2 linked regions of the Homo sapiens genome follow. The protein of the gene in region 1 interacts with the protein of each later gene in a pairwise test. Each region holds a gene or a part of one and is shown on either strand. Other genes may lie near its edges.

Region 1 (4,084 bases):
TCAAAGGCTGTATGGCAACTGCATGGAATCTTGAGCAAGTTTATGGAAAATTATTGAGCCCACTCTTTTCATGATCACTGTTCGCTGTGTGTCCCGAGGGCACTAACTCAGAGTGTCCTTTGACCCCTTCATCAGTGTGTCACCCGGCCAACTCGCTGAGCTCACTTTCTCCTCTCTCTCTCTCTCTCTCTCTCCCTCTCCCTGTCTTTCTCTTTCATTCTTCTCTACCTGGCCCTGGTCTATCCCAACATAAAGGCAATAATTCATTACCTCATTAATGGATCTGTCCTTTTTCTTTTTAAACAGTTCCTTATGTTAGCCATGAAATCTAGCTGGGGCTGTGTGGTTTCTGATTCCCCCTGGCTTATTCTTTACTTTTTCCTACTTTTCCAGGCTCAGCAGGGAGCTGCTGGATGAGAAAGAGCCTGAAGTCTTGCAGGACTCACTGGATAGATGTTATTCGATTCCTTCAGGTTATCTTGAACTGCCTGACTTAGGCCAGCCCTACAGCAGTGCTGTTTACTCATTGGAGGAACAGTACCTTGGCTTGGCTCTTGACGTGGACAGTGAGTACCTTACTATGAAGGTGATAAGCCTCCACCTGGTCTTCCAGATAGGGGTGATATTCCTGTTCCAAGTGGCCCTTACTGACCCGAGAGATGTCATTGCCGCAGGCAGGACCTGTGGGCGCATATAGGTTGTAATGAAACTGTAGTCTCAGTTGGAAGCCTAGACATGAAATGGGTCAGTGAGCAAGGCTCTATTCCTAGTCTCCAGCCATGCCTGTGGCAACCTGAGCCCGCTCTCAGCACATTGGACCCAGGCAGATGCAAAAAATTCACAGAACTATGATTTGGACTCAAGGGTTTGTAGATTTCCTCCTTCATTCTAATTTCAGTGTCTAAAATTCTTGCATCCATGAACGAGCTGGGCATTTGATGAGACAGGGCTGAATACTGCAGTTTTCCTCCTAGAAATCATCTGGGGCATTTTCTTTGAACTGATGGGAACAATAAGGCATAACTGTTTGCACAAACTTGGGATAAGTGATTTTGGGATAACGATCTACCAGAATGGGGATATTTCACCCTTGGTTCTGAGATGCAAACCAAAGAATATCATGACCAGCTTTCAGGCCTCCTGAAGTATATCTCTCACATTGTCCTGTTCTCATGCTGAGGAGCCTGAGATCCCTGTGTGGGGATTAGACAGTGGACTGTTATGGGTGTAGGTGAATTGGCTTATTTTGTCTGTCCCTGTCTGAATGTATTGCAGGAATTAAAAAGGACCAAGAAGAGGAAGAAGACCAAGACCCACCATGCCCCAGGTAACTGAGCAATTGTGAACAGCTACTTCTGTGTTGACATCTGGAGACTCCTGGTTCAGGGAAAACAGAGCGGGCTGACATTATCGATTACATCTTTTCAAGCAAGCCTGAATTATTCCTACTAACATTGCTGTTGGTTTTCATTGCAGTAGATATTTAGGTTTCCATTTCTTCCTCCCCTTATCATTTACTAACCTACTGTAGGTGGACCAGACTTCAAAAACTGTATTCTCATGGCGACTGCATGGAAACTTGAGCACATTTTATGGAAAATTATTGAGCACAGTCTTTTCATGATCACTGTATGCTGTGTGTCCTGAGGGCACTAACTCAGAGTGTCCTGTTACTCCCTCATCAGTGTGTCACCTGGACAATTCACTGAGCTCGTTCTCTCTCTCTCTCTCTGTGTGTGTGTGTGTGTGTGTGTGCGTGTGTGTGTGTGTGTGTGTGTGTCCATCTGTCTTTCTCTTTCATTCTTTTCCATTTGGCCCTGTTCTGTCCCAACATGAAGGCAATAATTTGTTACCTCATTAATGGATCTATCCTTTTACTTTCTTAACCACTTCCCTATGCTACCCATGAAACCTAGTTGGGGCTCTGTTGTGTGTGATTTCCCCTGGCTTATTCTTTACTTTTTCCTCCTTTTCCAGGCTCAGCAGGGAGCTGGTGGAGGTAGTAGAGCCTGAAGTCTTGCAGGACTCACTGGATAGATGTTATTCAACTCCTTCCAGTTGTCTTGAACAGCCTGACTCCTGCCAGCCCTATGGAAGTTCCTTTTATGCATTGGAGGAAAAACATGTTGGCTTTTCTCTTGACGTGGGAGGTGAGTACCTTTCTATGAAGGTGATAAGCATCCACTGAGTCTTCCATATAAAGATCATATTCCTGCTCCAAGTGGCCATTACTGAGCTGAGAGATGTCGTTGCCGCAGTGAGGACCTATAGGCACATGTAGGTTGAATGAAACTCTAGTTCTACCTGGAAGCCCAGACAAGGGATGGGTCAGTGAGCAAGACTCTCTTCCTAGTCTCAGGCCATACCTGTGGCGCCCTGATCCTATTCTCATGACATTGGACCTGGGCAGATGTGACAAATTCAGAGAACTATGATTTTGACTCAAGGGTTTGTAGATTTCCTTTTTCACTCTAATTTCAGTGTCTAAAGTCCTCACAACCATGAACAATCTGAGTATTTGATGAGACAGGGCTAAATATTGCAGTTTTTCTCCTAGAAATCATTTGAGGGTATTTGCTTTAAATTGATTGGAAAAATATGGCATAACTGTTTGCACAAACTTGGGACAAATGATATTGGGATAACGATCTACTAGAATAGGGACATTTTACCCACAGTTTCTGGGAGAAAAACCGAGGAATTTCTATCATGACCAGCCTTCAGGCCTCCTGAAATATATCTCTCACAGTGTCCTATTCTTATGCTGAGGAGCCTGAGGTCCCTGTGTGAGGATTAGACAGTGGATTGTTATGTGTGTAGGGGAATCAGCTTAATGTGTCTGTCCATGTCTGAATTTATTGCAGAAATTGAAAAGAAGGGGAAGGGGAAGAAAAGAAGGGGAAGAAGATCAAAGAAGGAAAGAAGAAGGGGAAGAAAAGAAGGGGAAGAAGATCAAAACCCACCATGCCCCAGGTGACTTTCAGCAATTGTGGATGCTTAATTCTGTGTTAACACCTGGAGGCAACAGATTCAGGGAAACCAGAGTGTGTTTGATGTCATGTTTTCAACGAAGGCTGAATTACTCCTACTGTCATTGCTGTTGGTTTTCATTGCAGTAGATGTTTAGGTTTCCATTTCTTCCTCCCCTTATCATTTCCTAACGTACCATAGGTTGACCATACTTCAAAAGCTGTACTCTCATGGCCACTGCATCGAATTTTGAGCATATTTTATGGAAAACTATTGAGCTCACTCTTTTCATGATCACAGTTTGCTGTGTGTCATGAGGGCACTAACTCAGAGTGTCCTTTTACTCCCTTACCAGTATGTCACCTGGCCAATTCACTAGGTCACTTTCTCTCTGTCTCTGTCTCTGTCTCTCTCTCTGTCTCTGTCTCTCTCTCTCTCTCTCTCTGTCTTTCTCTTTCATTGTTTTCTACCTGGCCCTGTTCTATCCCAACATAAAGGCAATAATTTGTTACCTCATTAATGGATCTGTCCTTTTTCTTTTCAAACTCTTCCTTAACGTTAGCCATGAAATCTAGCTGGGGCTGTGCGGTTTCTGATTCCCCCTGGCTTATTCTTTACTTTTTCCCACTTTTCCAGGCTCAGCAGGGAGCTGCTGGATGAGAAAGGGCCTGAAGTCTTGCAGGACTCACTGGATAGATGTTATTCAACTCCTTCAGGTTGTCTTGAACTGACTGACTCATGCCAGCCCTACAGAAGTGCCTTTTACATATTGGAGCAACAGTGTGTTGGCTTGGCTGTTGACATGGATGGTGAGTACCTTTCTATGAAGGTGATAAGGATCCACTGAGTCTTCTGGTTAGGGTCATATTCCTACTGCAAGTGGCCCTTACTGAGCTGAGAGATGTCATTGCCACAGGGAGGACCTATAGGCACATGTAGGTTGAATGAAACTCTAGTTCCACTTGGCAGCCCAGACAAGGGATGGGTCAGTGAGCAAGGCTCTCTTCCTAGTCTCAGGCCATGCCTGTGGCGCCCTAATCCTACTCTCATGACACTGGACCTGGGCAGATGTGACAAATTCACGCAACTCTGATTTTGTCTCAATTTTGTAGAT
Region 2 (3,091 bases), on another chromosome or scaffold:
TAGAAAACCCCATCTCTAGAAAAATAAAACAATTAGCTGAGCATGGTGGCACATGCCTGTGGTCCCAGCTACTTGGGAGGCTGAGGCAGAAGGATTGCTTCAGCCTGGGAGATCGAGGCTACAGTGAGTTGTGATCATGCCACTGCACTCCAGCTGGGGCAACAGAACGAGATCCTATCTCAAAAAAACGGAAAGAAAAGAAAAGAAAGGAAAAGAAAAAGAAAAAGAACCACAGGACACTGAAAGAGACTCTAAGAGGCAAACCCACGTTAGCCTTGGGGAAGGAATCTAGGACTTTCTCCTGGAGTTGACATTTAGACTGGTATCTAAAGGAAGAGTAGGAATAAGATTTCATGTAAACACAAGACTTGATGGCTTTAAGAATTAAAAAAAAAAAAAAGCTGGAAAACCACCAGCCTCCCAATTGCCTGCCTGTGGAGGGGGCGGGGCAGGTGTAGGTGCTGGTCCCCCAGGCCTGTCTCAGACAGAGCCTCAAGTAATTGTATTAAAAATAAGTTTATTGATATCTTGTCACCACTGGGAGAAAGGAGGGGGTTGAGCTCTGGAAGTCAGAGACAGCAATGGTAGGCAGAGAACCCAACCTGTACCTCTCCCATCAGAACTCGGCGCCTCCTCTCCCTGGGGTATACACGGCTATATCCTCTTTGTCATCCGTATTTTGATTTGTCTTACAACTCCCACCCGCTCCAAAGTCTGGGTTGGGGAGGTGGGGAGTCCCCCACGGGTCAATTCTCTTCAAGTCAAGAACAGGAACTGTTAGGGAAGGGGAGATGTGCAGACCCGAGAGGTTCCCTCCCCACCCCACATAGGGCAATAATAAATAACATGAAATTGATGGCTTAGAAGTCAGGGTTAAGGGAGGCAGCCAGGCAGACAGCACTGTACCAGAGAAAGGGGTTGGGGGGGCCCATTACTGAGGCCCCCCCCAGAGAATCAGGCACTAACTAGCACAGGGAGTGGGTGCTCACATCCCTGGAGCAGGGAGCTAGGGTGCAGCTGGGATGGGCAGAGAGCATCGCCCCCCTCGACTGCGCCAAGCTGGGGAGAGGGGTTGCAGGCAGGATCATAGATAGTAGATTTCACGGAGATTTCCATCGGCCGCGCCTTTTCCGTGTAGGGAAACCTTTTCTCCGCTTGTGTGGGGGGGAGTCGTGCGGAGGGAGCGGGGCTGGGGGGGGCCGGGGTGCCCCCTCCTCGCTCCTTGGGGCAATGATCACTCCCCTGGCTGCCACCACTGCCCCGTCCACCACAGCAGCCACCACGGACACGGGCTCTGGGGTGATCTCCACCTTGGGGGCCGGTGGGGGCAGGACAGGCCTGGGAGGTGGCGGTGGGGGTGGGGGTGGGGGCAGAGGTGGAGGCAGGGAGTCAACTGGGGTTCCTGGCAGAAGGGGCAGCAGAGCGCTGAGGGCCTCGCTCAGTTTGGCCAGTCCCTGTCGAAGGGTGCCGGCCAGCTCCCGGATGGCGTTGGCAGTCTCCTGCTGGGCCCGCAGGAAGTCCAGGGAGGGGTCTGAGGCCGAGAGCGTGGGTGGAGGCCGAGGAGGGGGTGGGGGGCTAGGGGGTGAGGGTGCCACTTGGGCCAGTGGCGGTGGGGGTGGCAGTGGAGGGGCTGGGGGTGGTGGAGACAAGGCCAGGCGAGGCAGCTGGACCGGCTGCAGGGCCGAAGGGGGTGGTGACTCACGCTCCTTGGGCCGTGGGCAGCCCCCTTCCTGGGGAGTGCAGGAGGGCCGGGCCCATGGCTCCGGGCTGCTGGAGCCCGCCTTGCTGTGGGCTGATGTATCTGTAGAGAGAGAAATACAGGTAAGGGGTGAGCGACCCTCGATGCTGCCTTGATTTCCCCTTTCCCACTCCTTCCCTCACCTCCCCCCTACCCGAACCCAGAACTATCCTTCTCACCCCCGCCCCCCAGCCCCAAGACAGTCTTGGTCTGTCACCCAGGCTGTAGTGCAGTGGTGCAATCTTGGCTCACTGCACCTTCCACCTCCTGGGTTCAAGCGATTATCCTGCCTCAGCCTCCCGAGTAGCTGGGATTTCAGGTGACCGCCACCACACCCGGCTACTTTTTCTATTTTTAATAAGAGACAGGGTTTCACCATGTTGGCCAGGCTGGTCTCGGACTCCTGACCTCAGGCGATCCGCCCGCCTTGGCCTCCCAAAGTGCTGGGATTCCAGGTGTGAGCCACCGCGCCTGGCCCCAGAATGATCCTTTTAAAACCTAAGTCAGATCATGCCTTGGAAGAGAAGCTCCATGGCAGGCCAGTCTTTGTACCCGGAGGAGAAAAAGTCCTGCCAGCTTTAGTGGAAACAGGTCCTGGAAGTCCCTTGCTAGGCCAGGCAGCTCCCATCTCACTCACAGTAAGAGCCAACAGTTTTTTTATTTTTTTAATTTTTTTTGAGACAAAGTCTCACTTTGTAGCCTAGGCTGGAGTGCAGTGGCGTGATCTCGGCTCACTGCAACCTCTGTCTTCCGGCTTCAAACGATTATCCTGCCTCAGCCTCCTAAGTAGCTGGGATTACAGGCAGGCGCCACCCCGCCTGGCTAAATTTTTGTATTTTTAGTAGAGATGGGGTTTTGCCATGTTGGCCAGGTTGGTCTCAAACTCCTGACCTCAAGCAATCCACCCACCTCGGCCTCCCAAAGTTCTGGGATTACAGGTGTGAGCCACTGCGCTCGGACAAGGGCCAACATTTGACGAGGTTCTGAACTATATGGATACTGCACCACACTGCTGGATCCTGAGGAAGTGAGAGAGAGGTCTGGGAGAGAGCTGGGGTGTCTGGGCACTGGTGGACACTTCCCTGAGACTCTCTCCAACCAGGACAGCAGGATTTTCCAGTTCAGCCCCCAGCCTGGTAGGTTTCCTCAGTCTGTACTCACCTGGGGTCTCATTCATGCTCATGGGCTTGAACAGTTTGCATACAGGGGCTCCCAGCTTCCTGGGCTCAGCCTGAACCTCTCGCCTGGGCTCCAGACTCCTGTCTCCAGCTGTGTACTCTCAATTGTCGAAAAACGCCCCAAACTCACTTGCTCGGAGCTGGGCTTCTGATCCTCCCCCACCCTGCTCCTTCC

What was found.
Region 2: the proteins of NBPF19 (region 1) and MYPOP interact in a two-hybrid assay, tested with the Homo sapiens proteins (one large-scale study listed by BioGRID).

What each region holds. Positions count from the first base shown.
Region 1 is NC_000001.11:149,498,680-149,502,763, forward strand, and holds part of NBPF19 (NBPF family member NBPF19), read left to right. Parts: intron 1-393; coding exon 394-566; intron 567-1,275; coding exon 1,276-1,327; intron 1,328-1,977; coding exon 1,978-2,150; intron 2,151-2,864; coding exon 2,865-2,973; intron 2,974-3,606; coding exon 3,607-3,779; intron 3,780-4,084.
Region 2 is NC_000019.10:45,889,523-45,892,613, forward strand, and holds the end of MYPOP (myb-related transcription factor, partner of profilin), read right to left. Parts: intron 2,758-3,091; coding exon of another isoform or gene 2,648-2,757; intron 1,802-2,647; coding exon 1,101-1,801; 3' UTR 501-1,100; downstream 1-500. UniProt on the Homo sapiens protein: Transcriptional repressor; DNA-binding protein that specifically recognizes the core sequence 5'-YAAC[GT]G-3'. Dimerization with PFN1 reduces its DNA-binding capacity.